3 separate regions of the Homo sapiens genome follow, and regions 1 and 2 are each linked to region 3. The links come from fine-mapping of genetic effects on gene expression. A gene starts in region 3. Each other region holds a variant in brackets. All regions are shown on one strand. Distances are between the middles of the regions.

Region 1 (9,987 bases), 150 kb before region 3:
CAGGGCCTGGAGCAAGGCTGTGACCTCAGCTGCACATCTGGGTCCTAAGACCACTGGAGGGAGCTGTGCTGAGTCAAGGTTAGAGAGCCCTTGGCAAGCAGATCCCCGGCAAGGCAGCCAAGTCAAAGAGGAAGTTTGAACACTTAATGGGACATCAAATGGGATTTTCCCTGCAATCTCAGAACTTCTGCTAAAAGCCCTAAAGTGGATAGCAATAAGTAAAAGTGCCCCCGCAGTCTAAAAAGAAAGTGATCAGAGGATACCTGCAGGATTTTCTCAAAGATGAGTGATCCAATCCTCCCATCCCACCTCCACCACCCCAAGAGAATACTAGAAGATTTGCGAGTCCATTGAAATAGGCGCATTTCTAAGAGTAGGGAGTTGTCAGCCTAGTAGGAAAGGCTAGGGTGTTTCTCCATCCCTCCCTTTCCCCATGAAGGCAGGAGGAAGATGTTTCTCCCATCCTCAAGTGAGGCACAAAGATCCAAGAGAACAGCAGGGAGGTCAGGAGGCCTTCGAGAGGGAGAGAGTGAGTCCAATACCCAGCTGGGTGCTGGCTGAGCCACAGAAACCAGTAGGCTGACATGGTGCTCCCCAGACAGGAGCTTGGGGCTTGCCCTTGCCCCCAGGTTCTGGAACAGGGAGGCTGGCACCTGCTTTTTGTCCAGAGAATTGTAAAGGAATGTAGGAAGCTGGCTGGGCTGGCTTGCAGTGGCAAGTACAGAGAGGGCATGAGGTGGGCATCCCTCTCATCTGGGCCACGTGACCACTACGGAATGTGTCCCTACTCTAGGTCTGATAAGACTTCCTCCTAAAAGGGAAGCCCAGGAACTAGAGGCAAGGTGTGGGGGAAGGTGGTAAAAAGCAGACTAGGCCACCTCTCCAAGGCAGACCTAGCTCAGGCTTGAGCTGAGGGATGGGGAGGGGAGAAGCATAGTGCTGGGTATGAGATTGAAGTTTTGATTTAGCCCGGCCACGACCTTTCAATGCTTGAAAGTGAGGTGAGGCAGCCAAAATAAAACTAGTTATTATAACTGAAGGTGACCAAAAAGCTGTGGGCTGTGCCTGAAACAACGTCAAGGGATGGTCCAGAAATAAGGAAGAGAAATGCAACAGAGAGCTAGAAAACAATAGTTGGAGAAAAATAAAGCCACCTCCTGATTGTACTCCATGGAGTCACATCGGTCAAAAAACCAATTACAATTGGAGGGAAATTCACCAGAGAGAGAAGTGCTGTCTAGAGAGTAACTATGATTGGGGAGAACTGCCCAAAGACATTCCATTCTCCATCTCATTAGAGTATGCATTCTCCAGGGTGTGAATGCTCCCAAGTGCTCCCAAGGGGGTGGAAATTGGCTGGGGTGGGGGTGTGAAAAATCTTAGATGTTTCAAAGTTTTATGACCCTCCAAAGTTTAATCCTGCCCAACAAAATAGTATGTAATTATTTCTTAATTTATGTTTACTATACATTTATTTATCAATACATATCTTATCTCTCTATAAATTTATATTATTTTATGTTATTATTTAAAATAGTGTTTAGGATAGGGAAAAAATGAAAGGAAGGGAATTTTTTTTCCTTAGGGGAACAATGCTGAAGAAAAGTCTAGAAACATTGAGTTAGAGAGAAACACAACATTCAACCTCAAACCAGAACTGGTGTTTGGATAAAATTTTTCTGGCTCCAAGTAGAATTGCTTTCACTGAATTTGTTTTGATATCCTACCTTTTGAGGGCTTTATCCTCTGCTTCACAAGGTGTCCTTTTCATAGGGACCCAGAAGAGAACGTTCTTTCAGGTTTCACTGTAAAGAAAAGCAGTGCTTCTTCTGGATAAATGGTTTGTTTATCTTTTATGTTTTATCTTTTATGAGATTTGTTATGCACATCTCAAATTAGATCAAGTTTCCCTCTTTGCTTCAGCCACAGGGGAGCTCAGGGCACCTTTTGTAACCACTGCAGGACTGGGCCATATGCATATCTGGGACTTTGCCTTATCTGTGCTTTTAGTATTTTTCTACTTTTAACTTTGCCCCAATTCCCTCAACTGTGTTTTAACTCTTTCCTATTTCATGTATTTTTATAAGCCCCCTACAATCCTTTGTGGAATATGTGGGATATAAATATGTAAAGAGGAACACTACCTCTCCTTCCAAAGTTTTCTTTCCGCCCACTCTTATTAAGTCTGTCCTTATACAGTTGCTTTTCTTTTTAACTCAATGCACAACTAAAAGGTATTCTATTGGGTTTTATCTTTTTCTTAGTTTTCCAGGATATTAAGATCATCTTGAAAACTGATTCTGTAACCCAACATGTTTGCCAACTTTGTGTTATCCATAGTGTTGAGGACCATACCTCCCATGTCTTCATCCAAGTCATTGATAACAATGTTGAATGGAACAGGGCTAAGACAGACCCCTAAGGTATGCCACTAGAGACCTTCTTCCAGCCAATATCAATGCACTAATCCCCTTTCTCTTCTGATATGGTTGAACCAACGATTAGCCCACCACATTTCTGCCATCTGTCTTCTGGCTAAGCTACTTGGTCAAACATCTCTCTGACCAAGGAGCCTCTGCCTACAGCATTCCTTAGACCTGTTACTCTTAATATCGCTCCCCAAAAGGAAGTAGGCTGACACTGGATGCCGGGAACTCAACTCTACTGCAATTGTGTGGCTGCCACCTCTGCACTGGAAATTTGATACTGGATCCCAAAAATAAGAAGCCTGAGTTGCCAGCTGCATGAGTAAAATGAATACACCACCCAGAGCTATGTGTTTCCAAATCAAAGTCTAATGTAGGTTCTCCTCACCGGTGGAGCCTGGGTCACATGACTGGCACCAGCTGCAAAAAATACTAAAAATCTCAGTTCTCTGGATTCTGCCTTGGAGCAGCAGTTCCCATATGTCAGGAACTCTAACAAGGATTAGAATGATGCTCAAAAAGTGCTAAGCAGTCAGACATGACGAATGTCCCTAGAGCCCAAATGGTGGGGGGACATGGCTGCCCAATGAGCCCAGGCTCCATCCTGCAGTTCTCAGACCCTTCTCCAAGCTCCTAGGAGAGGAAAGCCAGTGGGCTAACCTTGGACGGGGTGCTTTCCAGAGACAGTCTCAGCTAGTTTGCAAGGGGTCAGGCAGTGCTGTGAAGGCTGTCGGTGCCCTCCTGATGTCCCCTCAGGGCATTTGATCCCCTCCTGGTGTGCTTCCACCTGAGTCAGCAGGCACCTGAGTCTCTGTGTCAGAGGACTGTTCTCGGGCAGCCTCAGCCCTGGGAATTCACATCCCCTAAGACAACCCTCAATCAATATGATTGACAACATAAGGATTAAACATTCTCCAGCCTTCTCCATGATGAAACAACTCTGAAGTGTGACTTACACCATTAACAGACATCCCCTGTGGGACTCTTCCAAAGTTACCCTCGGGGACACTTTGCTTCATACTCACTTCTTTCCCTTCTTTCTTCCAGTTCCCTACGACCTCTGGATTTTCCCTGGGAACACACTTCCTAACACTTTCACACAAACCTTTGCCTCAGGGTCTGCTTCTGGAAACCAACCTAAAACAGGAAACCATGGCTGCCGGAAGTCCATGGTGGTAAATCGGGAATTACTAGAGAAGGAATGAAGAGAAGACCCCAAACGTGTCCGTTGTCCCCCTGGTTGGACCCCCTCCAGACCACCTTGGTTCTGAATGTAGAAACTTAACCTCTAAATATCTGCCCAGGCCCTGCCCTGGTCCAGAAGCAGAGCTGGAACTCAAAACCAGTTTTGCTGAAGGTGTGCACCTTCCCAACATCCACTGGTGAGAACATCCCAGCACACTGCTCTGTAACTTCCAGAATTCATTCCTTTCCCCTTTTTGAATGTCAAGAGCTCATATGCCCATCTCATGTCATTGAGCGCAAATCCCTCCCCTATAATTTATCAAAGATTGATGACAGTGACTCTGAAATCTCATGTCAAGTCCCTCCCAGGCTGCACGACATAATTCATCAGGGTCAGAGCCCTGAGTTTATCACAGCTGCTGCTACCGGCTTTACTGCCTCAATGCCTGTCCTTGACTTCAATCCCCTCTTTGCAATGTTTGTTCTACCCTTTTCAATTGGAAGACCACTTTCCTTACTGGAAAAGAAGGAGGTAAAATCATAGTTAGGCAGCACAGCCCTCACTTTACCTTCGGCGAATGTTAAATCATTTTCTCCACGCAAATCTTTCCCTTAATTTTTGCATGTAGAACAGAGAACAATGGGGTTCCTCAGAGAGTTCAGAACCCCTAGCTCATTTGAGACAGTAGATTTTCCTACCCCACTTCTTACAGGTGGGGCCACACTGCTGGATTCAGCCCTTGCCCTCTGTCACTTAGGGGACGCTGAAGGCTGTTTTACAAAATGTGAACCTTCATGGCCACTTCTGAATCCTAAGCCAACTGTTTTCGGACCCAGGCTGCTTCTTCTCCTGCTGACAGCTGTCACTCCTTTATTCCCAACCACCTCTCTACTTAAGAGCCTGACTAAAA[GT/G]TTTTTTTTTTTTTTTTTTGAGACGGAGTCTCGCTCTGTTGCCCAGGCTGGAGTGCAGTGGCATGATCTCGGCTCACTGCAACCTCCGCCCCCCAAGTTCAAGCGATTCTCCTGCCTCAGCCTCCCAAGTAGCTGGGACTACAGGAGCATGCCACCATGCCCGGCTAATTTTTGTATTTTTAGTAGAGACCAGGTTTCACTATGTTGGCCAGGCTGGTCTCGAACTCCTGACCTCCTGATCCACCCACCTCAGCCTCCCAAAGTGCTGGGATTACAGGCGTGAGCGACCGCGCCCGGCAAGAGACTAAAAGTTCTTAATTATAGTCCCTGGCCCATACTTTGAATTCTCTTGGCTTTTATTCCTGAGGGCAGGCCTCATGAAATCACCCCTTTCCATCACTTTAAGGGAAGGACCATCCTGCCTCATCCTCAGGAAGTAACATTTTTCTGCAAGGTTAGCCACCAACAATTGCCTTTAGGGTCATCAAATTTTTGAGACTCTCAAGCCCAGAAGATGCCCTGGTTCCCTGGCTTCTAAGCCTCTTGCGTCCCTAATTTCTTACTACAACTTACCCTTCCATTCTTGCACTATTTTTTTCTAATCTAGCTATAAGAGAGATTCACTTAGTTTCTTTAGCTAAATTTCCATTTTTCCTCTTCAGCTGGATCAATGCTATTTTAAAACAACAACAATACCAGGAAGAGTAAATGAGAATCTAACGAAAATAGTTATCTGCAGGGTGTGAATAGAAATGTAGAAATGTAGCAAAAGGGCTAGGGATCGGAGGGAGACATCTTCTAGTATACCGTCTTATATATGTTTGATTTTTCAATCATTTAAATGTTTTTACATGTTTAGAAACAAAATTAAATTACCAAGAGCGAAAAAAAACTAAACCTAAAGATGAGTTTTAACAAAAGCAAATGAAACCTAATTCTGTATCAAATCATATAGAAAAATTCTAATTCAAAGAATTTGGGACACAGTACCCTGACTATACACCCTTAATGGAATATATTCTAAAGAGAATAAACACCACAAAGATGCCTTAAACCTGACTGAGTAGGTTTGTTCTTAGTAGTATAACTGGTGCAGTAACTCTGAAATGATTTGTGTGTGTTGTAGAATAGAGAAAGTTAATGAATATGTTGGCATTTTGAGAACCAAGTTCTCACTGTGAGAGAAAGAACACATGAATAGGGATTGTGGGAAGGGAAGGAAGACCCTGGGGTGTTGGATTTGAATTGGAAGTATCAAAGTAAATACAAGATTTCTTTTTTTGAAAAAGTATTTGCTAGCTCTATCCACTGAAAGAGCCTAGAAATAACAATGCTCCAATGGAATGAGTGCACCAAGCACCCAGAATTTGGTTTTTTAATAGTGTTCTCCATTGAAAGGAGCCAGGAGCCTTGGGAGAAATGACTGATCCGATTCTGGAGCAGAGACAGTACAGGGTAAGCCTAGGATGTCAGGTTGCGCTAAAAATCAAGAAAGTGCTCAAATTCTAATGGTGACATGTCAAAGGAGCACGGGAGCCAAACTGAAAGGGCTCCCACCAGGCAAATTTTGGACAATTTGAGTTTTAATATTTGTAATTAATTATGACACATGGATTTTTTTTAAGTTCCCCAGTTCATGGTGATATTCAAAAGGGTGGGGAAACTCTTCTTCATGAAAGAATGCCTGTTAATGAAGTAGAATGATAGAATTAGACAATTACCATTTTACAACGTAGTGAGTTACTCGGCTAAGAATCATCGGTGTATTCTGTTACCATTGAATAAAAGGTTGGTGAGATATTCATGCAGTTCAAATATAACCCCTTCAGATTACTTAGTAAGTAAAAAGGGGCAAGGGTGCAATGGAGAACAGTGGTGGACACCACTTAACCAAATGATCAAACTCAGCATCTAATAACGGGACCAACTGACATGAAATGGCAGCCAATTTCTCTACAATAGAAATGGCACGGATTCTTCAAAAATCTCAGGAAGGACCGAGCACAGTGGCTCACGCCTGTAATTTCAGCACTTTGGGAGGCCAAGGCGGGTGGATCACTTGAGGTCAAGGAATTCAAGACCAGCCTGACATAGTGAAGTGAAACTCCGTCTCTACTAAAAATACAAAAATTAGCCAGGAGGTGGCGCACGTCTGTGGTCCCTGCTACACGGAAGGCTGAGGCAGGAGAATCGCTTGAACAGGGAGGAGGAGGCTGCAATGAGCCGAGATCATGCCACTGCACTCCAGCCTGGGCAACAGAGTGAGACCCTGTCTCAAAAAAAAAAAAAAAAAGAAAGAAAGAAAAAAGAAAAGAAAAAAGAAAGTCAAGAAGAATTTTAAAAAATGATCTATTCTAGACTCAAGGATAATAAAGACACATGCAATGCATGATCCTTGAATCAAGGAGGGAACTACAAAGGACATTGTGGGGACAATGGAGGATATTTGGATGTGGATAGTATATGAAATAGTGCTATATCAATATTACATTTCTTGAATGTGATATGGTATTGTGAAGGAGAGTATCTTTAGAAGAGATGTGCTGTAGTGTTTAAGAGAAAGTATTATGATGTCTATAACTTAAATGATTCAGATTTTTTAGAAATATATATATGCTAGGTGTGGTGGCTCATGCCTGTAATCCCAGCATTTTGGGAGGCCGAGGCGGGCAGATCACCTAAGGTCAGGAGTTTGAGACCAGCCTGGCCAACATGGCAAAACCCTGTCTGGCAAAACCCTGTCTGTACTAAAAATACAAAAATTAGCCCAGCATGGTAGCACATGCCTGTAACCCCAGCTACTCAGGAAGCTGAGGCCTGTAACCCCAGCTACTCAGGAAGCTGAGGCAGGAGAATCATTTGAACCTAGGAGGCAGAGGATGCAGTGAGCCGAGATCACGCCATTGCACTCCAGCCTGAGCAACAAGAGCAAAATTCCATCTCAAGAAAAAAAAAAAAAAAGAAAAAAGAAAGAAACATAGATAAATAGATAGATAGATAGATAGATAGATAGATAGATAGATAGATAGATAGATGATAGATAGATAGGCATAGGCATAGATAGAGAGAGAGAGACATGGCTAATGTAAGTGAAACGTTCCAGGTGTTCATCGTACTCTTCTTTCAACTCATTCATAGATTTGAAACTTTTTGAAATTAAAAATTGAAGTAGGAGAATGCTCTGGCTTCACCTCAAACCATTTAAGTCAAAATCTCTAGGGGTCAGCCCAAGTTTCTTTTATAGCATTTCTCCAGAAGTGTTTACTGTGCATCCAGGGTTGAGAACTACTGGCCTACCTGATTCATGATGATGTCCAGGCCCTCAGACCCTGCCTCAGCCCCCAAGGACCCTGAAAATAAGTCTCTTAAAGGTCACAGGGGCATCTGAGTCTCCAGCAGGCCCTTGCAGCCCTGAGTCAGTAGCCCAGGCTAAGGAGGAGAGAGTAAAGAGTCTTCATAGAAGTGTCTGCTTAGCATAGGAACCCTGACTGCTTTTAGGTCCTTCTGGCTTCCTCCTGCCAGGCCTCTCCCTTCTCAGAGGCCCCTCTGAGATAACCCTCATTCTGCCCCTTCAGGCTGCCTCTGAAAACCTCAGGCCTCTCTTCCTCCTCCCTTGTTCATAAGGCCTCCAGCAAGGGACCTTGCATGGCACGCCCTCAATAAATGAGTGCCAGGTGAGCCGAGGTGGGCTCACTCACACTGTGCCTCTCTCACTGTCACCCTCAGGGGGGAGGAGGAAAAGCCCATATCAAACATGGGCAAAGGGTTTTACTTTGTCCAAAAAAAAAAAAAAAAGCAGAAGCTGAAGGTCAAAGAAGCAAAGAGAGTGGGAAGGACTCTGTTCTTTACAAAGAACAGAGTCATGACACCTCACACTGGACCCTTGCTAGGTGTAGGTGCTGTGGCCGCACTGAATCTGTGTTATCTCATAAAATCAACAGCCTAGCCTTATGGGGTGGGTCATACTGTCATTGTCACTTCACACCATGTGTCCCCAGCATCACACAGCTGGAACCTCAGCAGTCTCGGACCAAAGCCCACACCTCTAGCCATGGTGCTAGACTGCCTACATAGGACTTAAGGAGGAGAAGGAAAGCAAGAGCCAATATTGATGAGGCGCCTACTAAGATGATCTTGTTGAATTCTCTCTGCAGCCCTGTGAAGTCAATCTTATCTTCTTTTGATGAAGCTGAGCAAATGGACTCTGAGATAAAGTAATTTCATTCCATCATGTTGAACAAGCCTAAAATGTATCATGATCTGCATTGTCTTCTGTATGAATGGCAATCTCTGGAGTTGTGCAACCCAGGATCAAGAGTGACTTGCCCAGGGCTATGCTGCCAGTAAGGGATGGTCTCTGGATTTGGAAGCAAGGTCTCTCAGACTTTGGCCTCCCTGGAAAAGCCCTGCTGTCCCCTCACCCCCACCACCTCAAGTGTTCTGTTACCAGACATCTCTCCGCAGGGATCAGAACCTCCCTTCTGCAGGGAGAAGTGAGTCTTCCACTGCGCTGCCATCAAGGAGGTGTCAGAACCCTGAGCTCTTCTAGACAGACCTCAGCTGTTGAACATGTGAAGAACATGCCTTTCTGCAGATGATGAAGTGGGATGTTGGGGATGAGAAAGCAGAGGCAGAAAAGTCTGAGGCATGCCCCCCACAATTCAGCAGACTGTGGGGTAGTGGCACTCATAGCTAGGATGACCAGCTCATCCCAGTTTTCTCAGGACTTTCCTTGTTTTAGCATTGAAAGTCCCACATCCAGGGACAACCTTCAATCCCAGTCAAGGGAGATGGTTAATGTCTTGGTCAGCTTGAGCTGCCATAACAAAATCCCATGATGGAATAAAACAACAGACAAATTTCTTTCTCACAGTTTTCCAACATCGAGGTGCTGGCCAATTTGGTTTCTGTTGAATGCTCTCTCCCTGGCTTGTAGAAAGCATCTTCCTAGCGTGTGCTCATGTGGGCTTTCCCTGGTGTGTGCACATGGAGAAAAAGTAAGAAAAAGAGGGAGAACAAGAGACAGGAAGAAAGAGAGTGCGCTCAGGAGAATGCTCCAACGTCTCTTCTTAAAGGACATTAATCCTGTCATGGGGGCCCTACCCTCATGACCTCATCTAACCCTAAATACCTCCAAAAGTCTATCTCCAGATACAGCTACATTGGGGTTTCAACATTTGGATTTTGGGTAGACACAGTTCAGTCCACAGCAGTTGAATAACCTACTTGCAGCCAAATCCCTCTTCTCAACCCCTGGTCCCCGAGATGCCCAAGGGGAGAAGGCTATCTATTCTTCCAGAAACCCACTCAGCCACAACAGCTAGTAGATGAATACCTTGCACTGGAGTTTCTGGTTTTTTCCAGATTCCAGGCCTAAGGAACCCTAAGTGGTGCCTGGCTTTCGTTTCCAAGGCAGAGTCTCCTAAGAGTGGGCTGGGTAGGGAGGGTGATCCTCAAAACTCCT
Region 2 (9,987 bases), 100 kb before region 3:
GAGTGTGTGCGCGTGAATGAATGTGTGAAGGCCCATGGGGGAGGGGTGGGCACACCAGCTCGCCTCCATTCACATGCCTCCCCACCTGGCATAAAGATTTAGCACTCAGATGTTTAATTACCTGAAAAACAAAAGGCTTTTTAAAAGTGACAAAAAAGCCAAAACAGAAAAATACACCTTAAAAAAGGGTACTAGGGGGCCAGGAGTGGTGGCTCACACCTGTAATCCCAGCACTTTGGGAGGCCAAGGCGGGTGGATCATGAGGTCAGGAGTTCGAGACCAGCCTGGCCAACATGGTGAAACCCTGCCTCCAAAAATACAAACATTAGCTGGGTGCAGTGGTGAGTACCTGTAGTCCTAGCTACTCAGGAAGCTGAGGCAGGAGAATCACTTGAACCCGGGGAAGAGGAGGTTGCAGTGAGCCGAGATCATGCCACTGCACTCCAGCCTGGGTGACAGAGTGAGACTCCATCTCAAAAAAAAAGGGGGGGATACTAATTATACATGTTAAGGTTATATAGTATATATTATACATTAATTTATATATCAGATTTATGATGCAATATCTAGTTATAACATATACTATGGTTGTATGATATATATGTTATACATCTCTGATAAATAAGATTATAGACCTTCTTTTTTGCTTTCATACATTCCTATGCTTTCCTTATTTTACATCAATTAATTACTATTAGAATAAGGCAAAGAAGATTGAAAAAAAGAGATTAAGCCTCAGGGTGCTGACAGGTGAATCCATAGGAGCTTCTTGTTCAGCCTTCTATCTTGCTTCTCTTTTTCTAAACCTTCTTAGTGGCTTTTTAATTTTTGACTCCTCCCTTCTCTGATTTTCTTCTGTCCTTGTTTCAAAGCCCTGATGGTGGCAAGGAGTGACCGCCCTTGAGTAAGCCTCCTCAAATCTTTAACAAGGTCAGCTGGAAGGCCCAGACACCTTGCAGTAGGGGGTCTCCACCTGCTGCATGATGGGGATCACCAGAATTGTTTAAAAATCCTCATCAGCCTCTCCAGGAAGGAGGCCTGGGCATCAACATTTTTAAAACTTCCCAAGACCTCCTCAGGTGCAGCCAAGGCTGTACCACAGCTGTTTGGAGCTATTTAAAAAAATGCATGTTCCTCAGACCGCACTCAGGACCCATAAATGAGAACGTTGCGGGTGGGCTCTTGGCATCTTCAGATTTAAAACCTCCTGAGCACTTCTGTCAGCTGCTAGCTAGTTTGAGTGCTTTGGGCACAGATCGTTTATCAGGGCCCGTTTAGCCTTGACACTCTGAGGTTTTGTGAGCTGAGTTTTAGAGCTGAAACAAACTGTATGCTCTCAGGTGAGAAGCCAGTAAGGCAGCATAATTTGAGAAGAGGAGTGGCTCTTTCCAGAGCTCACCCAAGAGAGGGAGTCTGCAGCCTCCCCTCCTCCACCAAGGGCATGCTCAGCCCAGTGGGTCAGGTCACAGGCACCCCAGGAGGACACACACAGTGTCCCACCCACCTTTGTATCTCCAGCCCCAGGACAGGGCAGAGCACAGAGTAGGTGCTTGTACGTTTTTATTTGTTGATTAATTGAACGAATAAATGAACACATTGTTGTACTTTAAAAACAAATGCTGACCAGCACCTGCCGCCACCCCTACCCCCACCCCTACTCTGGAACAACTGAAAAAAGAAGGGAAAGGCTTTAATCATTTTGGAAACTCCTGGTTCTAATGTGCAGCCAAACTGAGATGTGCTGCTGCAGGGTATTGCTTCTTACTGCTTCTCAAAGTGTGCCCCAGAGACCTCCTGAGACACTTGTTGGGACTCCAGACCCATGAAATCAGGTCATCTTGGGGAGTGAGAGCAATAGGGTATGGTGATTTGCAGTTCTGGCCATGGAGTCAGACCAACCTGGGGTTGGATATTGACTCTGTTATCTATTAACTGGTAACCTGGTGCAACTTCTAGCTATAAATACTGATGGACAGAGGATAGGCTCGGAACCCAAAATACATGGGTTCTTACCCAGCTCTACCACCATTGTGTGATCTTGGCAAGTGGGCACCCCAGACATTATCTTCCATTATCATTATTATCATCTCATAATAATATATGCATTGTAATATTTGCTACCAATTTTATTCATTACCAGCTAATTCTAGAAGTTAGGTGGAACCTCCAAGAAGATGTATGATGCCTAGGGTATTACTTTGACCTCCCCAAGGCAAGCTGGAGCCACTAACCCATGCCTCTAGCTTAGGACTTAGCCCTAGAAGAAAGCTTAATTTGGGCAGTGTCCCAAGCCCTGGGCTAGCACGACCGCCTGATACAGCATGAGCCAAGCTAAAGAGATTTTTGGCCATGTGCAGAAACTCAGCATGAAAGGGCAGAATCCCAACTCCAAACTCTTATCCTCTAACTCCAAAGTTGTCCTTAAAATCCTCCTCTGCCCCAGCTCCTTGGTTCCTGGGTGAAGGGAGCCCCTAATCCCACAGTCTCCAACCTCCCTGGGGCTCTTATCTTTCCCCTTACCCCACTTCCCAGTTCAGAGCCCAGCCTAGTGGACACCTGCCTTTGCCCCTCCTCTCTTGTTACTTAAGAGCTGTGCCTAAATAGACTTGGAGCTGCCTCTTCTCTTTGCAAGTGTATCCCAAGCTTCCACCATTCAAATTATGTGCACATTTTTGTTCTGAGGCAGTATTTTTCCATTTGCCTCTGATTTGGTTGAGTCGGAGACAGACAAGATCATAAGGCTCTGCAGATCTCCCGTCCAGCGGCTAGAGAGGCACTAGGTAAAACAGCAGACCCAGGAGGTGGCATATCTCATTCTATTGTATCCTAGTTCATCCTTTCCTCTTCTAAACCTTCACTCTTCCTCACTTTGCCAATTTCTGCAGAATGGAAACATAGAGAGGCTAGGTGAGATGGCAGAGTGGTAGGTGTATGTCTAGTGGTCAAAGATTGGTCAGCTGGGCTAGGAACAGGGCAGAGTGTAGGATGTATTTATTCTGCACATCTCTGGCCCCTCCTACCTACAGGCAGGTAGAGCTGCTGCGCAGGAGATGCCTAGAGGCCCCTGAATGTTGTCAGTCCTGGGCCAGGGCTCCAAAGTCTCTTTTCTTTTGTGAATGGCCACTATCTGCTCTGTCGCTTGGGGCTCCCCTGTACCCCAAGCCCAGTTTCAGAGTCTTCCCAGAGGTCCCCTTTCTTGTAGTTCCAGAAAACAAGCACACAATCCTTTTGTTTTAAGGATTTTACTGCTGATTCTCATTAGCAGCTTACAAGGTACTCAGTCCAAAGCCCAACTTTGCTGAGAACTCCCTCAGATCTCGACCTTCCTCTTGTATCCTCAAGTAGAGCCCAAAAAAACATTTACTTGCCTCCCAGACTCCTTCTCCCCCCACCCCCAAATGTTGAGGACACTCCATACATTTAGGCTCTTCTTCTGGTATGGAAGCCAGGGGAAGCCATCCCTGGTCACACCAGGGCCTTGATCATGTTCATCAGGGCCTCATTTGTCCCTTTCCCAGGTCGCCCAGCCCACACAGAGATTATCCGCTAAGACAAGTACCAGAAAAATCCCCCTAGCGTCCACTTGCACCTACTCTAACACATTTCTCATTTTAAGGGCTGAAATTCCCCTCTCAAGTTGATTGTAGTTTGTCACCTCTTCCCAGTAGGTTCTTTGGCCTTGCAAACACCCCTTCAAAGAGGAATACTATTAGTCACCTTAATGTACATGATCCTTATCAGATCACTTTCTTTAAAGACTGAAAGTGCCAGCCACGGGAGCTGGGCAGTGCCAGGAGTAGCCACTGGAATGGAAACCATGGTGACCAGGACTAAAGTCACCATTTTACCCAGGGTGGTGTGTCCCACATGGCAAAGCAAGCATTGTGTCCTGTACAGAAGACTGTAAACTCTGTCCTGCCCTGTGATTCTGGTGCCTTCTCCAATCCCAGCCTCAGACTCTGGGAGACCCTTGGCCCCCTCCCCTCTTCATTGGCCAAGGCTGCTCAAAGCCCTGGACACCTCACGTTTATATCAACAGAGCAGTTGCTAGAGGAAGCAGCCTCCCGCCCTCCAGAGGGGTGTCTGGTGCCCGAGCCCTGTTGTTTGTGTACCTTGTCTCAGTAGTGACCAGAGGGGCAGGCAGGCCTGGGCTGTGTCTCTGGGGCAACGTACTGTTGGGGTCCCAGCTGTCCCTGCACATAAAGCACCGACTCCATCAATGCACCCCTGAGGTATCCTCTTTCAGGGAGTGAGAATTTAAACCTTCCTCTGGTGAG[G/A]CTTCTATTTTCCACCAGCCCTGCTCCTGGCCTCTCTGCTCCCTTCCCAATGAGGGCAGCTCCACATCCAGCCAAGATCCAAGGAACAACCATGCCTGACCCTGTCCTCTCCTTCTCAGCCACCTCCTAGAATCTCTGAATGTTTTCTGAAATGACCGTGGGAAACAGGACAGGGAGAGGCATGCTGCAGCGTATCCCAGGCCTAACCCAGCTCCTTTCAGCCACTGCCATCCCAACAGAAGGGGGCAAGGGCCTGCAGAGACAGGCTGGGAGGATTCCAATTTTGGTTTCCATCCCCAGATACTAGCTGTCTGGTGTCTCTTTACCTGTACCCCCAAAACACAGATACACACACACACACACCCCTCATGTACCAATTACTCCCTAGAGTCTGTTTTTCCTGCAAGAACTCCTTCTCAGCTTCTTCAACTCCCACTGGTCTCTGTCCTTCCCTTCTCCCAGAGCTGGGCCTCATGGGTGCTGGCAGCAGTTGAGACTGAATGGTGAAGGAGGTAAAACATGACTCTGGAAGCACATGGCTCTGCCCTCTCTAGCTGCATCACCTTGGGCAAGTCACTTAACCTCTCTGGTCTCAATTTCCTCACCAGAAAAATTAGGATAATAATAGTACCTACCCCAAACATCCTTGTGAGGAATAAATGAGTTAACCTACATAATATTTTAGAGTAATGTCAGGCCAGCAGCAAGGACTGTGTTAATGTCAGCTCTCCTTGTTACTAAATTCCAGGGAATATGACACAGTAGGAGAAGCATGGAACTTGGGAGCTGACAGATATGGGTTCAAATCCCAGCACCCCACTGACTCCACATGTGACCTTGAATGAAATACCTTACTGCCCAGTATCCTCCTGTGCAGGAGGGGGACTACTGATAGAACCTTACCCAATAGGGTTAACACTGGGTGTGGGGTGTGCCAGCCCTGAAGAGTATAGAGGCAGCTGTAGGGAGAGGAGTCAAGCTCCTGGAATCTGATCCCCCAGATTAGTTGCTGCACTCTGGGGTGAGCAGAGTAAACTGGTCTGACTTGGAAAGAAGAGCCAGAGACCAGCCAGGAATTCAGGCCCCCAGGAGGTGCCATAAATAGCTAGAGCAGATCAGAGGGCCTCCAGGGATGGCAGGCTGGGAGACGGGGAAGGCTCAAAGGAGCAGTGAAAAAGGAAGCTGTCAGTCATCAGTCTGGGGGCAGACCCAGGACCCTCTCCCAAAGGTCGAAGGGAAAACTGTCTATAAGTAAGACAGAAGAAAGGGGTCAACTCTTAAGGACCAGCCTGAGACCACCTGGGCACCATTCACTCTGAGCTGTTGGGAGAGGCAGGAAATTCTCGACACGCCATTCACCTGTGGTCTTCACAAGCCCACTCGGCGCCCTATTTTCTGCCCTTTGACCATTTGGAAATAGAAATCAATAGCACAGCCTGTGTCACAGATGGGAAAACGGAGGCTCAGAGATGTCAAGTGATTTGTCCAAGATCACACAGTGAATCGGGCTAAGATGGGGATATGAACGTAGAATATTTTTTGCCTCCTAATCCAGGGTTATACATGACAGCCAAAATAGAAGGCCCTGTCCTCAGGGAGGAAGTCTTTCTTGCAGGGGAACAGTGAACTGAAAGGATCCATCCTCCTTGCTTTCCTCCCCAAGACATTTTACTCTTCCTCCGTTGATCCAAGCATATCACCCTAGCTGGGCCTGGGAAGTGTGAGAGGGATGCACATTTATAATGCTTCAGAGATGTTTCATCAAAGGTAGCTGTGCGCAGCCCTGGGAATAGGCTAAACTTGAACTTGGGCTCTGAAGACCTGAACTCAAAGCCCGTGTGATCTTATACAAATCACTTCACCTTTCTCAGCCACAAGTCCCTAACTTGCAAAATGAGGCCCATAATTCACACCCATGTGAGACTGGTGTAAGGACTAAATGAGATAATGCATGCTTGAATGCTTGATTAATGCCCCAAATATGATAAAAGCTGGGATCCCCTGGTGAGCCAGCACCTTATTTATCTCTGTACTCTTGGTATTTACCACCGCACCTGGAACATAGGAACCTCTGATAAATGTTGACTGAACAAGAAAATGAAGTAAACTCTTTACATTTAAACGTGGTATGTTTGTGTGATAACAACATTCTTTGCAGTTTATCAGCTGCCACTGTCTTTTTATTGTGGACACAGGCACTATTATCTCTACTCAGTGCTTTATTCCCCCCGAAAAATGTTTGAAAAAATAAGATCCAGATAAAAATGCTTTCAGTGGCTGGGCGCGGTGGCTCATGCCACCCAGCATTTTGGGAGGCCAAGGCAGGCGGATCACGAGGTCAGGAGATGGAGACCATCCTGGCCACATGGTGAAACCCTGTCTCTACTAAAATTACAAAAATTAGCTGGGCCTGGTGGCACATGCCAGTAGTCCCAGCTACTTTGGAGGCTGAGGCAGGAGAATCGGTTGAACTCGGGAGGCGGAGGTTGCAGTGAGCCAAGATCGTGCCACTGCACTCCAGTCTGGTGACAGAGTGAGACTCCATCTCAAAAAATAAATAATAATAATCCTTTTAGTAGTAAATCCAAAAGGTAGGGGACCATATAATTTATTGTCCACAGCGGGACACCTTTGGGAGTAAAGGGGTGCTATTAGTAATTATGTCTGGACAACAGGAAGAAACCATGACTGGCAAACCAAAATGCTGGGCATCACACTAACAGAGCACTCTGCTGCTCAGACTCTCTGGAGGAGTGAGCCCTAAATCTTCCAAACCATCTTGACTCCTCTTCTTTAGTCAGACCCTCCAAAGGGTGCCCTACCCTCTCATCCCCACCAGCCAAACCCATTTGGAGCTGTTTTCAGATCCGTTCCCCAGTGTTCTTAGGTTCCTCATTTTCAACCTACAAGTGACCCTGACCCCTTCCTTCTGCTTCCCTGAGAATGGCCTAGAGTGTTTGCACTGCTCCAAACACGAAGACTTTTGCCTCTGCTAAGTACCCATCATGAGAGCTGCAAAAATCATCTAGCCATCCTCTGCTGCTGTTCCGGCTCAGGGTCTTTTCTATGGGCCCCCATCATCTCTCTCTGGCCTCAGTAGGCTTCTCACTGGTCCCCTGCCTCTGCTCTTCCCAAGTGCTCAGACCACCTGTCTCACCTGTTCAGAGACAATGGCTTCCCACCTCAGTCTGAGAAAAAGCAAGGTACTTATGACAGCCCATAAGGCCCCAGTCCCTTTTACCCTTGTTATCTCTCTGGCTTAATCTCTTAGAACTCTTCAGTCACCCAGATGTATGTCCTCGCTAGTTCCTCAAACACCCCAGGAATGCTCCCTTCTCAGAGCCTTTGCTCACGTTGTTCCCTTCCTTGGAACGCTTTCCTCTTAGACAACCAAATGATTAGTTCCCTTGCCTTCTTCACGTCTTCTTCAATTGTCTCCTTTTCAAAGTCCTTCACCCTGGCCATCCTATAAGTACGTAACCCCACCTCTTAGCACTTCCTGTTTCCATTTCCTGTCTTTTCTCCTTGGCACTTGTCATCACAAAATAGACCATGTATTTTACTTACCTTATTTGTTGTTCAGTTCCTCAAGCTCCACAAATCATCACAGCAGGGATTTTCATTTGCTTTGTTCTTTTGCCATATTCCCAGTACCTGAAACAGCACCTGGCATAGAGTAGATACTCAATAAATATTTGTTAAGAAGAATAAAAGACTGACTGTGAGGGCACATAGCATGGAGGTTGAATATTTGGCCTGAAGTACAAAAGCCTGCATTTTAATCCCGGCTCTGCACACTTCTGTGACTCAGTTTACCTGTAACTTGGGATAATACACATCGCCTCCCATGGCTGTGGCAAGCATGCATCTGATTTCATTTAAACCCCTAAACCCACTGCCTGGCCTGTTTCAAAATCTCTGAGCTAAGTAAATGGCAGCTATTGTTACTCAGGGAGGCTCCTGATCGATTTGACATTACATTATGGCTTTGTAACAGGCAAATCAGCACCCACCGCTTTTGAGTCATAACTCACACACTTACTCCCCAAATTGTCAGTTTTGATCCCACCTCTGCCAGGACCCCTCCTTTCCTGAACCCACGTTCCCCCAAAGCAAATGGCCTGGGTCTTTTTGCAGTCAGCCCCTTTCAACACACATCTCCTCCTGTTTAAATCTCAGAAGGCCACCCTCCTAAATCTCAGGATGCCTGCCCTGGGGCCCCTTCCACACTCTCCCCCAGTGGAGCTAGGGAATTTGGGTGGGAAACAAAGGGGAGAACATAAGGTGAGCTGAGAGGGAGAGGGAGAAGAGAGCAGGCCAAGCCATACCCACCTGCCAGGTTCCTGTCTTTGCCTACTGATAAATAGGGGATACTAATGGCCAGATTTTCCATTCCCCCACCCCAGCACCCGCTGTCACTCAATTAAAAAAAGATAGAGGGAGAGAGCCTGGGGGAGGGGCAGGAGGCCTTGGCTATAAAGCCTGTGGCTAAGTGGGGAAAGCACGAAGCCTGGCCTGCTGGGTCCTTTTCCCGTCATCCCCAGCCAGATTTAGCTGCTGACAGCTGCTTGGGACTCTGCCGCCAGGGCCTGGCCCAGACCTGCCTGCCTCTCTCCTCTCCCTCAGTGACTCCTGAGCCACAGCCCCTCCATGGCCCAGAAGGAAGAGGCTGCTGTGGCCACTGAGGCTGCCTCCCAGAATGGGGAGGATCTGGAGAACCTGGACGACCCTGAGAAGCTGAAAGAGCTGATTGAGCTGCCGCCCTTTGAGATTGTCACAGGGTAAGCCTCAGATGTGGGTCAGGGTTCTGCTCCCTAGAAGAGTGCAGCCTTGGGTTAGGCTGTGGAAATTCAGGATGGTTATATTAGGCGTCAGGGACAGCTACAACCCTGCAGCAGTGAGAGTGCACCAGTGGGCCCGGCAGGGGTGGTAGGGGACCCAGCAGCAAATTCTCTTGGCTTCTCAGGGTGACACCTTGGGCTCTCTAATCAGGGAGAGGTAGGAGGAGCTCCTTGGAGGCAAAAGCCCAGAGAATAAAACCACCCTTCAGGCCTCCTGGTATTGGGATGGCCACCTGCCTCTCTGGGTAGAAGCTTAGTCCCAGGGAGTTTGGCGAGGACAGAGGATGAGACTGGCACATCTATATGTGGCTCCGTTCAAAGCAACCCTTCCCCTCAACTTCTCTGTTCCTGAGTGGGTCTCTCCGCTAGCCATAGGCCTCTAGCCCTTTCTTTAGAGCTTCTTCCTGGAGTAGATGCTCCCAAGACAGGAAAGATAGATCCATCCTTTCCCAAGACTCAGAAGCAGCTTTTTTCTTATTAAATCTTTTGAGTCTCCTCAGGGGCTGTCCCACAGAGAAACAGAGAAATTACATGCAGATAACGCAGCCCAGGAGCTTATGGACACAGGAGCTGTTCCAACATGCTCAGGCATTGCCTGGAGGAACTGGGACCCAAAGAAAAGGGTCTACAGACTGCAAGGAGGGGGCTGTGTGCAGGGTACCTCTGTCTTATCCAGATTATGCCATCTCCAGGAATAAAACTAAGTAGTCTTCTTCCTCTTCCCTTTCTATTCCTGTAGTGGAAGACCCTTCTAAATCCTGAGCAAAGAATAAAAAGAGAATCTATGAGGCCATATTTCCTCCTTGAACCAAACGTTCCCTTCATGGGGTCTCCAGGAATGACCACAGGCAGAGTGGGTGCGAGACTAA
Region 3 (9,669 bases):
ATCTAACACCACCCCCGCCCTATCATATGCTTTCGCATCATGTCACATATTCACAAGGTGCAGAGCAGAAAGGAGAAGAGCTTCCTTGACTCAAGCAAATGAATCTATACTTGGAGGCATCATGAGATAAGCAAAAAATACTTCTGAAGAAGACTTTTCAGCGTCCCTTGAATCAAACTGCATTGTAGTGTTCTGACCAGGGAAGGAAGCCATTTCCCCACTGACGAGAGACAGGAGATCATACAGCACAAAATTTAGACCAGAGTCTTTTCCATTCACAGGCCAAGCAATTAGTCAAACTTGGGCAGTTTCCTTTCCCATTCAGCCATTAAGAGTTTGCACATCATTATTAGGGTTTATTTAGCCCAGTGTGTAATGGTAGAAGAACCAGTGGGGGAGTTGGGTGCAGGGAGGTCTTCCCCAAGACATCTCAGTCATGTCTGAGCGTCACTTTCCCTAGTAAAGTTAGGACATTGGATTAGATCTTAAAGTCCCTGGTTGCTCAGATATCCTAAGGATCCTAGGGCATGAGCTGGCTGGATGGATGCACAGAACCCCTAGGGATGGTCCTCATGAGTTTAAAGTGTGATGAGCAGCTTAGCTGGATGGAGTCTGATTGTTAGGTGGATTCTGGGCTGGCCCACACGAGGTCCCTCCACCCTTGTTCCCTCCCGGGAAGATTACTGTGGCATATGTCACAGGCTTGGAGCAGACCAGGACCTTAGGAGGTAGAGGGGGCAATGAGGATGGAGCTGGGAGTGAAGGTTTTCCTGATGGGGAATCAAGAGGTAGGCTGGTGTAGGTGGTATTGTCAAATGAAGGTGGTGAGTCAAGCCTAATGTGTGGTACATCCAAAGGCAATTCAGCAGCCGGTCCAGAGTCACTGACGTGGTGGACCACTGAGGAGGGATTCTGTAACAAAAGCAGGCAAGTCAGGAATGCCTCCCTCTGCCCCAGAACTCCCTTTGGTGGGAAGCCCAGGACCACACTAGATCTATCTCTTGAATCCTGAGTATATCAGTGGGCAAGAGGGCTTCATTGTGAAGATTTTCAAGCCCCAAGTTTCTCCCCAAATCTGGGAGGGTGGGATGCCAAGGGAGACCATTAGTGTCAAGTTTACAGCATTTAGGAAGAGGGTTTGGACCCCAACTAGGTCCCAGTCCTTTCTCCACCCCATCATCCTAGGACCTCTCAGTGAGTGAGATGAATGGAAAGTCTGGGGAATTTGGCTGTGGGCCTGCAGAGGCCTCTTACCATGCCTGAAACTCTGCTGCTCAGGAATCGGCCACAGACACCAAGCCTGTTCCCTGGCAGGACAGACAACAGCAGCATAGTCTGCTTCCGGGGCTGGCTCAGAGCCCTTCCCTCACTCCCTTCCTTCAGAAGCCTCTGAAACCTCTTCACTACTGCAGACTCACCTTCCCCACTCCCACCACCAAACCTTTACCCCTTCCATCTCCCCAGCCTGCCGTAAATCTCCCCACCCACTTACTGCTTCCAGAGCTCCCTTCAACCCACCTCAGCGCTCAGCCTACCTCCCGAGACCCTTTCCCCACCTTCTCCAATGCCTTTCCTCCCATTGCATTGCCCTACCCTTTCTAATTCCTGTCTTTCTGCAGACTGCTCCCATTGAATCTCCTTCCCTCCCCTCCATCCCTCAGCCCTGGGAATTCTAGGATATGGGGGCCTTGAGACTTAAGCCCAGGCAAATCCATTTGTAGGGGGATTGGACCTAGACTCCTGGCCTCATCTGCACAACTGGTTGATACTGGAATGGTAGGGCCAGGCTGAGATAGGAAGATAGCCACCTACCTTGTTTCCTCTTGGCCATCACAGCAAACAGCACCACCGCTGCCACCAGCAGACCTACCAGGAGCACAGCACCCCAGATCAAGGGGATGCTGAGGAACAGAAAGGGATAGGCAGGCTTAGACCTGAAGCCTGTGGGGAGCTGCTGGCCAGGAGCCCTGGAGCAGTGACAGAAGGGTTACATTCTTGATTGGGAGAGGGAGATGAAATAGAATGAGGGGAGCTGACTGAGGTAGGGCAGAAGAGGGACTCATTAAGGTATCCTGGCTGAAGAATCACCAGCATGAAGGCACCATTGCTGACCCAGGACAGAGAAGTATGTATCTGTCTGTCTGTCTGTCCAGAAGTTCCCCAGAGGTGGGAAGAATCATAGGTTTTCCCCTTCGATTTAGTTTGGAGCTCTAAACAAGTCATTGTCTCCACCACCACCCTTCTCCTGGCCTCCCAAATCCAATCCTGTCAGTACCTCTTCTCATCCTGGCTGGGTTCCAAAGGGTTGGCACTGCCTGCAGGGTCTGAGAATGCGTTCTCAGCCAGACTGCCAATCTTATGGGTCTCTTCTTCTTCCTCTGTCAGGCCAGGAATGGAGTCAGAAGGAAACATTTAATGAGTGCATGCCCATATGGGCAGGCTTCAATATCCTGTTGAGGTCTGAGGGACTGGAGGAGTGGAGCCAAGGAAGGAGAGGACCCCAGGAAGAAACACAGAAAGGGGAGGCTGGGATGTTCTTTAGGGGCCTGTCACTCCACAGATCAGGAAATGGCACTGGCTCTTTATGTCTTTACCTGGTTGTGACTACACCCACTTTTCCCTCTACCACCAGCTCCCCCCATCTTCCTGCTGCATTTCTTCCCTTTTACCTGCTCTACCCCTCACCCCTCTGGCCTTATCAAGCTGTTAAGTCTGTGTAAAAACACCTACTGGATGATCTGTACCCACCTCTCCTTCCCACCCGAATAGGTTTCTGCAGTTCTCATCCTCAATGGTGACATAGCTCCTGGATCTCATGGGTCTTAAATGGGGCTTCCTCACATACCTGTGACCCTGCAACCCTAGCCCAAGCTCTGCCCTCAGGACTGAAGAAAATCTGGGTGGGCCCTCATGTGATGCAACACAAACCAACTGACCCTTGCTGAGAGCCTTGCTGGGATCCTGAGACTCAGTTTGAGGACAAGGCTTCTGTCACCCATATGATGTGCTTGACTTCTGGCTGCAGGACTTGGGGTTGGTTTCTCTGGGCCTGGAGACTTGTCTTAGGAACCTGGCCAGTCCTTTCAGACCGACTGGAATGGGGCCTTGCCTTGTTCTTGAGAGATTCACCATTCCTACTCCCCATCCTATGCCACACCAGGAACTGGGGTTGCTGTGGCACATGTCCTGCCCTCCTGGTGCCTATTAGGCTGCCTTTGACCACCTTCTCTGAAGCTAAATGCTCACCTGAGCCGCAAGCCACATCATCTCTGGATGCTACGCGCCACCTGCCTGCCTGAACATCATCCTCCACAGCACCTGCCCCATGGCAGCAGGTCAGGGGCCCAGGTCCCTGCCTCCCTGACGCTCCTCCCAGGGAGTCTCATCTTGTCACAATTTGCCTTTTAGTGAGTTAGAACCTGAATTTAGTAACTCAAAGTGTCAAGGAATGAGGAGGGCAAAGGATGACAAGGATTAACAATATATTTATAATATAAAACAATAACCACAGGCTTGAGATGAGAAGGATTCTAATGACAACATAGTCTACCCTCTTATTTAGAGGGAAAAAAAACAAGGGAAGGGGCCAGGGGTGGTGGCTTATACCTGCAATCCCAGCACTTTGGGAGGCCAAGGCGGGCAGATCACTTGAGGTCAGGAGTTCAAGACCAGCCTGGCCAACATGATAAAACCCCGTCTCTACTAAAAATACAAAAATTAGCTGGGCATGGTGGTGGGCACCTGTAGTCCCAGTTACTTGGGAGGCTGAGACACAAGAATCACTTGAACCCGAGAGGCCAAGGTTGCAGTGAGCCGATAGTGCCACTGCACTCCAGCTTGAGCAACAGAGTGAGACCCTGTCTCAAACAAAACAAAAAACAAGGGAAGGGAAAATGCTCTACTTAATTTTATTATTTGGGGGTTGGGCATAAAATATGAGAAAAGGAAGACCTAAAGGTGAAAAAATGGCCAGTATCCATAAAAGAAAAGGAGTGGCTGTCTGTGCTTCAGGTAGCTGACCATTTTTTATTTTTAGAACATCCTATCTTTCTTAAAAAAAAAAACCCAAGTTTTTAATATTTTAAAATTTTCTTTTAACAAATGCTTATATACTAGAAAAGTTATGGGCTGTGGGAATGAAACCTGCAAAAACAGTGTCTTTAATACTGAAAATAGGGTCAAGAATATTGGCTTAAAATATTAATGACATTTTTCCATTTTTAAAACGAAAGGAGTTGAAGTTGTTCAGGCACTGAATGTACCTACTTGTAGGTGAGACATACTAGATGGCCTGTGAAGACTTATAAAATTAATTAAGGTATGAATTCCATAATTCTTAAGCCATCAAGCCCGCTATTACAGGAATAAAACACTGGAAGCTACAAAAATTAATTCTGGTTTTATACACTCAGATTCAACATTGTTTAAAATATTTCTAATTAAAAAATAAGTTAGCATCAAGTATGTTGAAAATGCTGGAAGAAGAGGCCAAGTCCCTGGAGTGGGAAGGACATGCCTTCCTGTGGGGAAGCGCAGTAGTGTGGAAGGGGGAAAGGGATGGTTTTCAGCTGATTTATCTCAGACTTCCCACCCAGTTTGGTTTCCGCTCCCTGCAGAGCTGTCAAGAGGATATCTCCTTGGAATGCCTCCTCCCCAGGGGCCCCCACTCCTCAAGAACCCATGAGCCCTGGCAATAGGCGGGGGTGGGGAGGGTAGGTCTAAGGGGTGGTAGCTGGCCTAGGATAACTCACCTGGGGGCAGTATGTTCAGAGAGACTCTGTGCAAAATCTGGGGCCCCCTGGCCCCATCCACCATGCAGCCATACTCGCCAGCATCCTCTTCCTGCAGGGTAACCATTTCCACCTGCAGCAGGCCCCCACCCAGGTCTGTGAGAAACGTACGCCTGCCCGCTGGAGCTCTGCGATCCACAGCTGAGGACACCAGGGGCTGGCACCCCTCCGGCAAGAACCGGCACCACACCTTCTGAGCTTTGACATCCTGGAGCCTGTAGTGGCACTGCACCAGAATGGAGCTTCCCACGGGTGCCTGCAGCACCTCAGGGAGGCTGCCAACTATGCCCTGACCTGGGGAAGGAAAGGAGGTGGGAATTTTGGGCAGGAGCTGGGAGCATCTCCCAGCCCAGCTGCTGGTATGGGTGTGGCATTCACAATAACACGTTACTCCTGGACATGGGGCTGAGCATATGGGGCCCAGAGCTGCAGCTCCTCCTGAACCTTACCTTCTAGTCCCAGGAGCAGCAGCAAGAGCAGGGTGAGGCCCATGGCTGGGCAGAGAAATGTCAACTCCTGGGCTTGCCTGGGCACTGATGCAGCATTCGCCTGAGGGCAGGAAACATCTGCCTCAGAAAGTCACTTGGGGTGGGAGAAAGGAAATGATGGGCACCTCCAGGGGTGGGGAAAGGGAGTTCTTCCAAGCCCTGGTTGGCTCAGTGCTCAGGAACTGCCCTGAGGGTAAGGGTGGGCAAGACAGGATGAGAAGACCCGAAGAAAGCTAGAAGCCTGCAGGGGCTGGGGCCCGGCTAAGGGGTGAGATGGGAGGATTGTGACAATTGGAGGACAGGAGAGGAAGAGGAAAGATGATCTTCAGGATCTTCCTAATACAGAATCTGAGGGTGCACAGCTATGAAGGAGGAAGGTAGAGTGCCCTGCACCTCACTCAATGCCATTCTTGCTCTCAATTCTTTGGGAGTGCCCCACGACCACCCAAGCTTTTAGGAGGTTGTATGCAGTACAACCTCAAACAGGAAGTTTCACCTTGATCCTGTGCCCTGGACTGGGTCTTTCTTCATTTATTGTCCTGGACACTATAGAACCCTTCCATCTGGATCCACATTCTTCAGTTCTGGGAAACAAATTCTTACTTTGATAATTACATGTCCATTTTCTTCTCCCCTTCCATTTTTCTGCAATTCCTTAACTAGTTGGTTATTGAATGTCGTGTGTTCATCTCATTTTCATATCTTTTCTATCTCATTTTCCATCTTTTTGTCTCTTTTGTTCTGCCTTCAAGGAGATTTCCTCATTTTCTTCCATCCTTCTATTTTTGTCTTTTAAAATGTTATTTTTTAATATTTTTAATTTACAAGACAAGATATTCCTTATTCTTTGAGCATTTTTAAATTCTGGCATACTATTTTTGTTTCATGAATGCTCTATCTTCTCTGTTGGAAGACAATTCTTCACAAATATTTTCACATTGCTGCATGTTCTAGTCCTTCTGTGCAAAGGGTATTGGCCAAGTTTTGCTGAAGGGTGATTGAATAGCAAACATACCTTGAGTGCAACGTCCAGAGATTTGCTCGCATTCTTCCTCTTCTTCACCGGAGATTTACATTCCAGAGTAAACGTTTCTCTCTCTCTCTCTCTCTCTCTCTCTCTCTTCCAGAGAGGAAGATATACCAGATTCTCTATATAAACTCCAAGTCTCCTAATTTGGGGGTTTCTCTCCTGTGATCCAAACTCACTGCCTGCACAGGAGGCACCTGGCTCTCATTCATGTTGCCCTGTGGAATTGGGCTCGAGGAACTGGGACAAAGTGTGAGTAATAAACCTAATAAACTATCTGACCTCAGACACAGGGGAAGCACCAGTGGTCAGAGAGACTACAGCAGCTGGGGATGGGTGGGAGGGGCGTATTGCCCTAATCTGGAGGGTAAGACCTAGAAAAGGGCCTGGAAAGGCCATTCTCCCTCACTCCCATCTCCTCCCGTCTCACCTTTTTTCCTCTTTTTCCTTCCTTCCTTTGGGAACAAGGGAGTGAGGAATGGGAAACTGGGAGCAGGAGCATGAGAAAATCAGTTAATGTGTTAAGCTGGGCCTTGTGGAAGTGGGAGATTGGGTGACCAACTTCCCGTTTTTGCTTGGGATTGAGGGGTTTCTTGGGACTTTCTGTGCAAAAACTGAAAAAGTCCTGAACAAACCAGGACGGGTCACCCTAGTTGGTGATGTGCTTATGTCTGTCTTGCCAATGCATATCAGGCTTTCTTTGATTTCCTTATAAGAAAGTTATTTTCATACTAACAAGCCACCCAGGCGTGTTGTGTGAAGAGGTGAACTGTATTCAACACTGGACTAAGTGTTGAATATGGTCCACTGCTGGGTGCTGAGACAGAGGTGACCAGGCAAGATCCTGGCCTTCATGGAGACATCATGTTGCTGGGCGTTAGATGAAGGAAACCAGTGTTTATTGAGGACCTACTATGTGCCAGTCACCTGGCCAAGGACCTTCACAATGTTATTTCTTTCTTTTTTTTTTTTCTTTTGAGACAGTCTCACTCTGTCACCCAGGCGGGAGTGCAGTGGCGCAATCTTGGCTCACTGCAACCTTGGCCTCCTAGATTCAAGCAATTCTCTGCCTCAGCCTCCCAAGTAGCTGGGACTATAGGCATGCACCACATGCCTGACTAATTTTTGTCTTTCTTTTTTTTTTAGTAGAGACAGGGTTTTGCCATGTTGGCCAGGCTGGTCTTGAATTCCTGGCCTCAAGTAATCCACCCCACTCAGCCTCCCAAGGTGCTGGGATTACAGGCGTGAGCCACCATGTCTGGCCACGAATGTTATTTCTTTCAACCTCACAAAAACCTTGCAAAGTAGGGGAAGTGGTTGTTTTGTTTATTTGTTTCTACAAGCGAGGGCACTGGGTTTTAGAGGGATTGAGGAGCTTGCCTAAGGTGTCTTAATAGGAGGCAGAGTTGAAATTTGAGGCCAAATGGCCTCACTTCCCTTCAGTCCAGAGTGCTCGCAGAGAGTCTGAGGCAGGAGAGCCTGTGGTGATTCCAGTCCAGAGAGGAATGTCTCTGACATGGCAGAGAAGGAAAGAGAAAAGGCCAAGCTCCCATGAGGAGGAAAGCCTGATTCTGGGCTGGGGCTGATGGCAGCCACTGCCCTGGAGCACGAGGCAGGCCGCGGGGAGCCTCCCAGGCCATTTCATCGGCACTGGTGCCCACAACTGGGGCAGGAGGTAGGTGGAGAAGGCGCAGTTTGGGCTCGGCTCATTCTTGGTGCTACCTGTGCCCTAGATCTATAGGAAGGGGGCAATGCCCCAGGACACAATGAGGAAGTTTAATGTGCCCCTGAGCCAGGGAGGCCATGGGAACACAGGTTGGACCAGAATCCCAAGGCTCCAGGACAGGGAGCCAGTGGAGCAGCTTACATTGGGAGTGGACAAGGCAGGGTTGGGGCACAGCTGGGACCAGGGGAGTGACATGTTGAAGTGAGGCTGGAACATGAGGGCCATGCCAGGGGCTCCATCCTAGTGATTTAAACCTTAGGTGCCCAAGCGCAGGTTAGGTGGCAAGGCAGCCATGTGAGCTATGGCCACAGGGGATCCTGGGCATCCACTTCTCTGGGGCCCAGTCCAGAGAGCCCAGGAATATGGCCGACTCACTTCTTCTTTCCCCTGCAGCTCACCCTCAGGGGAGTCTCCTCCCAGTTTCCCCATGAGTCTTGGCCAGGGTGGTGTGTGTGTTGAAGAGAGAGTTGAGGTTGCATGTGCTGCCTTGGCTGTTCGCTCGGCCCTGAATACTCCTCCCCGTGATGTCCTCATGGCTCACTTCCTGGCCTTCTTCAAGTGTTCCTCAAATGGCACCTTCTGGCTTCTGCATTTAAGATGGTATCATCCCCTGTCCCTCCTGCACACCCATACTCCTAACCCTGCTTGATTTTAATTTTTTCCTCAGCACGTTGTGCCTCTAACAGGGAATCAGATTGACTTACTTACTGTGTGCATTGTCTGTCTCCTCTCCTTCCACTAAAGTGAGCTCTGTGTGGGCACAACTCTTGCCTCTTTTGTCCACTGTTGTATTTCCAGTGTTCAGAATAGTACTCGCCACAGACTGGTTGCTCAAACTAATACTTGTTGAACAAATAAGTAGGAGTGAGTCAGAGGAAAGAGCACCTTGAATGCCAAGTGAAATTTGGATTTCCAGGCTCTACTGGGGATTTTGGGTGGGGATTTTGGGTAAGTTCCTTTCCCTTGTTGAGCCTCAGTTTCCCTTCTATATGATGAGGGGCTTGAACCATCAGTTCCCAGTTTGATAATGCTGTACATTATCAAGCCCTTGTCATTTCTCCGAAGGGGAAATGATATGATGAAAACAGAGTTCTAAGGAGATGAATGGATGAGTCTGCCAGGAGTTGACCTTGGTGGGGAAGAACTGAGTCAGCTGGAGGGGGCCTTGGGGCAGGGAGGTTCCATAATCCAGGGGAAGCTGATGGAGAGGGTGAATGCTGGGGAGGAGAGCAGAGGAAGACTGGGTGCTAGAGAAACCCCAGAGGAGGAGGCAGAACTTGGCGATCAGATCTAGGGAAGGGAAGAGAGAGAAGAAAAAAACTGACTGGCTGATTGAGCCTGTGAGAATGGAGGGATGTGGTATCCTATGGTCCTGGGCCTCAAGGAGCAAAATCTCTTGTCTTTTTCTCATCCAAATTCATTTTCTTACCCCTGTGGAAGAAAATGAGACTTTCATGATGCCCAAAACTATCCAGCTAAATATGACAGTCTTGGATTTATTTGTAAGTGTTTAAAATGTCCAATATTCAGAAGTTGTCAGGTGTTCTTACCACCTCCCCACTCCCTCAACCAGTCCCTGCTTCCAGGGTCCAGGAGAAGCAGTGTTCAGGCAGAGTAGTCTCTTGCCAGAGCAGAACA

What was found. PIP is the estimated chance that this variant, and not a neighbour inherited with it, causes the effect.
Region 1: its variant is fine-mapped to the expression of TREML1 in whole blood (INTERVAL, PIP 0.96).
Region 2: its variant is fine-mapped to the expression of TREML1 in whole blood (TOPMed, PIP above 0.99).

Annotation. Positions count from the first base shown.
Region 1 is chr6:40,999,665-41,009,651 of GRCh38, forward strand. The region is part of intron 1 of LOC101929555 (a long non-coding RNA gene); the gene reads right to left. Among named protein-coding and RNA genes, the nearest start is that of UNC5CL, 35 kb to the right of the region's middle. The variant GT/G (reference allele first, on the strand shown) is at 4,523.
Region 2 is chr6:41,044,421-41,054,407 of GRCh38, forward strand. APOBEC2 (apolipoprotein B mRNA editing enzyme catalytic subunit 2) reads left to right here and starts at 8,782. Exons shown (of 3, transcript NM_006789.4): 1 at 8,782-9,058. The coding sequence starts at 8,928. The variant G/A (reference allele first, on the strand shown) is at 4,278.
Region 3 is chr6:41,149,007-41,158,675 of GRCh38, forward strand. It overlaps TREML1 (triggering receptor expressed on myeloid cells like 1), which reads right to left and starts at 5,341. Exons shown (of 6, transcript NM_178174.4): 1 at 5,240-5,341; 2 at 4,752-5,084; 3 at 2,276-2,378; 4 at 1,813-1,901; 5 at 1,255-1,307; 6 at 331-912. The coding sequence starts at 5,282. The coding sequence ends at 598. TREM2 (triggering receptor expressed on myeloid cells 2) reads right to left here. Exons shown (of 5, transcript NM_018965.4): 5 at 9,502-9,669.